2 separate regions of the Homo sapiens genome follow, and region 1 is linked to region 2. The links come from fine-mapping of genetic effects on gene expression. A gene starts in region 2. The other region holds a variant in brackets. All regions are shown on one strand. Distances are between the middles of the regions.

Evidence for each region. PIP is the estimated chance that this variant, and not a neighbour inherited with it, causes the effect.
Region 1: its variant is fine-mapped to the expression of MPZL3 in whole blood (TOPMed, PIP above 0.99).

The regions. Positions count from the first base shown.
Region 1 is chr11:118,225,181-118,228,213 of GRCh38, reverse strand. It overlaps MPZL3 (myelin protein zero like 3), which reads left to right. Exons shown (of 6, transcript NM_198275.3): 6 at 1-1,524. Among named protein-coding and RNA genes, the nearest start is that of JAML, 1.7 kb to the right of the region's middle. The variant C/A (reference allele first, on the strand shown) is at 1,733.
Region 2 is chr11:118,251,195-118,253,694 of GRCh38, reverse strand. It overlaps MPZL3 (myelin protein zero like 3), which reads left to right and starts at 1,330. Exons shown (of 6, transcript NM_198275.3): 1 at 1,330-1,473. The coding sequence starts at 1,401. MPZL2 (myelin protein zero like 2) reads left to right here. Exons shown (of 6, transcript NM_005797.4): 6 at 1-279. RefSeq lists enhancers at 888-1,448, 1,798-1,847, 1,449-2,010.

The DNA of each region.
Region 1 (3,033 bases), 26 kb after region 2:
AAATTTGGGTTGTTAGATCCGTATCATAGATTTGGCCTAGCCTCTTCTGTTAACCTAGTCCACAGATGAGCGAATCTGGTTAGTTGAAGGACATTGTGATTTGACTCTGGTCACGCGAGGAAGTAGAAGGGCAAAGACAGGACCGGCAGTTTACATTTCCAGTGGTTAAACCTCACGGTACTTTGGGACTGCTTGTTAACTTTTGTGGTTGTCTGAGGCCAATCTAACGTGACCATTTCTGACACCTCAACAGAGAGAGGAAAGCAACTTGAGCAATGAGAGTAAATAACTTGGGCTCTCAGAGATTTGAAGATAGAGATCTCATTGTGAGGGGGACTATTTTGCAGGTCCTCATTTCTCCAAGAAAGAGATGGTGTTACAGGAACCCACTGAAAGCCATATCCCATTAAATGAGGAACTAATTTTGGCTGGGCCTTCTTGTAATGTCCTCGCAGGTGTGTTGTGAAGATTAATGCAGGGTAGTATGTTTGTAGATTGACACCTAGTCTAAACTTGAGGTAATTGGTGCTCTGTGAATACTCAGTCGTGTTCTTTTATAGCCTTAATCATGATTTGAACTAGTCCCTTGCTTTTTAAATGACTGAATGAAGTCCTTCGTGGTAAGGGAGTACGTTGATAACTTAGTTTACTATATGGGTTTGTGGTCGCATCCCAGTCATCAGCTGCTATCATTTTCCTTCTTCATCCCTTATACTGAGATTTGGGTTACAGCTTTTTATTCTTCGAAGGATCACAAAGCAGTGTACAGACACCTGCCTTCTTTAAGGATGAAAGGAAGATAAAGTGGTCTTTTTTTGTTTACTTATTTGTTTCACCTCTTGTTTGAGTAACTTCTAAGGTGCTATTCTCTCTCTCTTTTTGCTACCTCATGAGCTCTTGTCACAGCCATGGAAACCAGCCTCGTTTAGAAAGGGAACTTAGTTCAGAAGGGGTTAAAAGCCTTCCAGAATTTTTCTTTAGCTGCTGAAGTTTTTACATGTGGTTACATGACTTTAAGTTTTATGCATTACGCTCTTAATTCTATTACAAAATGTGGACTCACCAATTGCTTTGTGTTTTCCATGTGACCTGTTACTTCAGGCTACTTGGGGAACATCTTAGTCCTCTGTAGCTCCTGAACCCAGCACTGGTGCTTCAAGAGAGAAGGTAGCACGTCTTTGTTCAAAACAAAACAAAACGACACTTCTGGAGGCCACATCCTGAATATGAATGTTCTACTAAGTCACTCAGTTATGGTTCTAAAGGGAAACTGTAAGAAGACCCACAAGGAGTGGACCAAGACTATTATTTAATTGCACAACTTGAAACTTTGCTGCCAGAAGAGGCAGCTCCATTCCTTTGACTCCAGTGTTGGGCTGTTAACTGCTGCACCTCATTGCCTTTTTTTGTTTTTGTTTTTGTTTTGTAGGAGGGTAGGCACTGTTGGGCCATATGCACAAATATTGTAACTCTTGGTATCTTTACTGCATCATAGTCAATAAACTTCTTTGTACCCTTTGGCTACCTTTTGGTGTGTGCATATCTACATAAAAGGTGGGAATTGTCATGTGAAAAAGATGGGGGTTTGTGGTATTAAAAGCTGAATTAAATTTAAAAGAGTTTAATTGAGCACAGAATGATTCATGAATCAGGCAGTCTCCTGAGCCAGAGTGGACTCAGAGACTCCAGCGCAGCCACGTGGTGGAAGATTTATGGACAGCAAAAGGAAAGT[C/A]ATGTACAGGAAACAGAAGTGAGGTACAGAAATAGCCGGATTGGTTACAGCTCGGTGTTTGCCTTATTTGAATAGTTTGAATCATTGGCCATCTTCGATTGGCCAAACTCAGTGACTGGCACAAGAGTAGACTAGAGTCCGTATACTATTCCATTTACGTTATAGTTCATGATGTACAGAGAAACCTTTAGGCCAAACTTAAAATATGTAAGGAGGCAGCTTTAGGCTAAACTTGATTTAACAGTGGTTTTCAGCATCGTGCAACCAGTCATGTCGGAGCTGTACCCCCGCAAGAACCTGCAGAGGTTCCGTGGTGTGCTGGAACCAGCTTACATAGCAAGAGCTGATTACAGGCTGAGTACCCCTAATCTGAAAATACAAAAGAGTGGTTGCTATTTCAACTCCAAAATCTGTAACTTTGAGTGCCAACATGATGCTCCAAAGAAATGCTTATTGGAGCATTTTGGATTTTCAGACTAGGGACGTTCAACTTGTATGTATTCGGCAAATATTCTAAAATCTGAAAAAAATATGAAATCTGAAACATTTCTGGTCCCAAGCATATTGGATAAGGGATACTCAACCTGTATTAAGTTTTTTAGGAATTTTGCAAGCCAGTTGTTAAACTGTTGGTAGCTTGAAATAGGTTATGATGGGAATATTTATGCTGTGGAGATTGCTGGCTCTCTAGCACATCACTTCTCAAGGACCATGCAGCGTAGTGCTTGGGAGCAAACGTTCAACAGCTTTTCAGATGATACAGGACAAGTTCCATGAGTCTGCCCATGCCTAGGTCAAGCCAATCTAGCCGAGGTTGAAGGTGCGTACATTGAGAACACCTATTTTGAAGTGGTGACTAAGACTGAGAGGTATCTTGAAGTGAAGAAACCTTGAGTTCTAATCTAGGATGTCCAAGTCACCCAAGAGGTTCTCTATGGGAATCAATGGCTGCCTGTATTCTGGAAATGCTGATATCACATGGCCAGAGGAAACTTTCATGTCTACATGGTGAGTTGGAGGACTGGGCAGGCGTATCTTTGGAAGCAGGGATTGGGTGATTGCCTGGCGAGGTTGCACCTCTGTTTTGAGAGGAAAAATAAAAGAGGTTGCTGTATCTTTAACACAGAAGGTTTTGTGTTAATATTACGTTTATTGTATTTTGTTTGCATGAAATGGATTTCTTTCTCAGCACCTATTTGCCTGGTGCCATTCAAGCTCCTACCCTCAGAGGGCTTGTCATCTAAAAGGGGAGATGGCACCTGAAGAGGTCTGAGTGTGAGGTTCACCTCAGTAGGTTGAAT
Region 2 (2,500 bases):
CAATTCTAACCTTTGAAAATATTATAACTGGATATTTCTTCAAACAGATGTCCTGGATGATGGTCCATAAGAATAATGAAGAAGTAGTTAAAAATGTATGGACAGTTTTTCCGGCAAAATTTGTAGCTTATGTCTTGGCTAAATAGTCAAGGGGTAATATGGGCCTGTTGTTTAGTGTCTCCTTCCTAAAGAGCACTTTTGTATTGTAATTTATTTTTTATTATGCTTTAAACACTATGTAAATAAACCTTTAGTAATAAAGAATTATCAGTTATATAATTTGTGTATATACATATCTAGAAGTTCTACATTGCAGGAAAAACAGATGGATATATATTTAATCTTTACCAAAAAGTTTTCTTAGTAGAGACAACCTGCAAGTCAATAATGGATACAGTTAGTTTCTAATGGGTAAACAGAAGTATACGGATTTCCACAGAATTTTCACACTGTTTTGGATAGCTGGGAATTGGGCATAACAACACTACTTAGTTTGAGGGCTCTTTCAAAGAAAAGTATCAAAGATTCTATTTAGTACTTTGCATTACACTTTTAATAGGGAAAACTACTGGCTTTCAAGTCTAGTAAAGGAATGGAAATTGAAAAATGGAAACTTATTAATTCTTCCCCAAAGCGAAAGCATACTTTTATTCTCCTCCTGCTTTCATTGACATGTGGCAATTTCCAGGGAAGAGGCTTACTGATTATTAAAGCAGTGTACTTATTGTACCATCTCTTTTTCAGAAGTATGTGACGCCATCTCACTTCAAGTACTGTGATAACATAACTTTCTTACTTTTCCAACCAAAGACACAGAAATCCCAGTTCCTCTTTTCCTCTAATACAGGCTGTAATGATTTGATCATCATTGCCACCGCCAAAAGTAATTTAATAAACACCCAATTTTGGAGGCTGCAATACTTACACTAAAAAGGACACCAACCAATGAGGCTTGTGGCACATATCACTACAAGCACCTAATATATATTTATCTATACTGTATGATCTCCCAGGTGTTTCTGAACTCTAAATTTACAGTAGTGTATTCTGAGAACCTTCAACTAAATCTCGAGACGTAAAAACGATGTCTGACATGCAGTCAGAGCATCAAAATTATTTAGTTCTGCAGAATTCCATAAAAACAAAATTGTAATTATTCCAAGTCCGTAGCCTACTTCATTTTCAAGCAAAAGAGAGCATTTAGCTCCCGCCTGAAAGTTAATAAATCTCTGGTCAGTGAAACCAGGTGTGGTTCTGGAAAGAAGCCAGGTTCCTATGGTAACTTCGGATCGCCATTTAAGTTGTCTCTCGGCCTCCTGCTCTGACGTCACTTCCGGTGTTACCTGTGTCGTTACCGGGAGCTGTAAACAAGGTGTGCAAGCATCTGAAGAGCTGCCGGGATGCAGCAGAGAGGAGCAGCTGGAAGCCGTGGCTGCGCTCTCTTCCCTCTGCTGGGCGTCCTGTTCTTCCAGGGTGAGTGCTCCGGCTGGCTACGCTCCACTTCCGGCCGGGGGGTTAGGGAAGATGGTCGCTTTTCCGGTTCCGGGTAGGGGGGTCTCCAGAAAGCCCCCGCATAGCTCTGGGAAGGAAGGAGGGAGGGAGCGGGACGTTGGGACGATGTCATCACCACCCCGTTGAGGATAGTTGGTATTTTGTCAGTCCTTTCCTGAGCTTTGGGAGCTTTTTCACCTTGCGTGACCTGTCATTGTAGTTTGGTGATAGCATACTTGATGGAACCACAAAGAGCTCTGGCTTTGGGGGCACCCGGTGTTATTTTGTGGTGTTATTATCAGTGGTTGACCGCTGTCGTTTGGGCGCTGTATACCCTGATTAGAAAGAAAACAGTTCTAGCATTCAGTAGTTTGCCCCAGTAGTTTTGGGAAACAAAATCATGACAGTTGGTAATTTTATTTTTTGTAGGTGATTATTGTAGTCTATAAAATGAAATATTTGCTAGTCACAGAAGGGATGTGATGTGATTCGTTATAGAGAAGCATATCGATGAAAAAGTAACTGCTTTAGCATTTTCATAACTTTTTTTAATACAAGAAAGAGCATATAAATTCTGTTAAAATTTATTAAGTAATATCAGAAGTAGGGTATTCACACTGACATTCACATCTTAAAATTAGGTGAGTTTTGCTTTCATATAATTTTCAAATTGCATAAATTTCAATCCAGCCTAATTACCTTCATCTTAAGGTACAATTATTTCCTGGATTTTGTGTATGTGTGTCTTCCTGGGAAATAAAATATTAGTATATCTAGTATTAGAGTGAATTGCTAAATTTATAAAATTTCCTTGAGGGTAATGGGGATTTCTGAAAGAGATATTTAATATTATATAAATATAAATAGTTTAATATAAAGACTTCAGATGTCCTAAATCTTAGCAGTTAAGGCTGGAAAGTTTTTAACTGGTGACTAATATTCATGTTGCCAGCACACCCCCGATCCCTCCCAGCTGCCTGTGTCATCATAAGTCTCCAGTTTTTAAGCT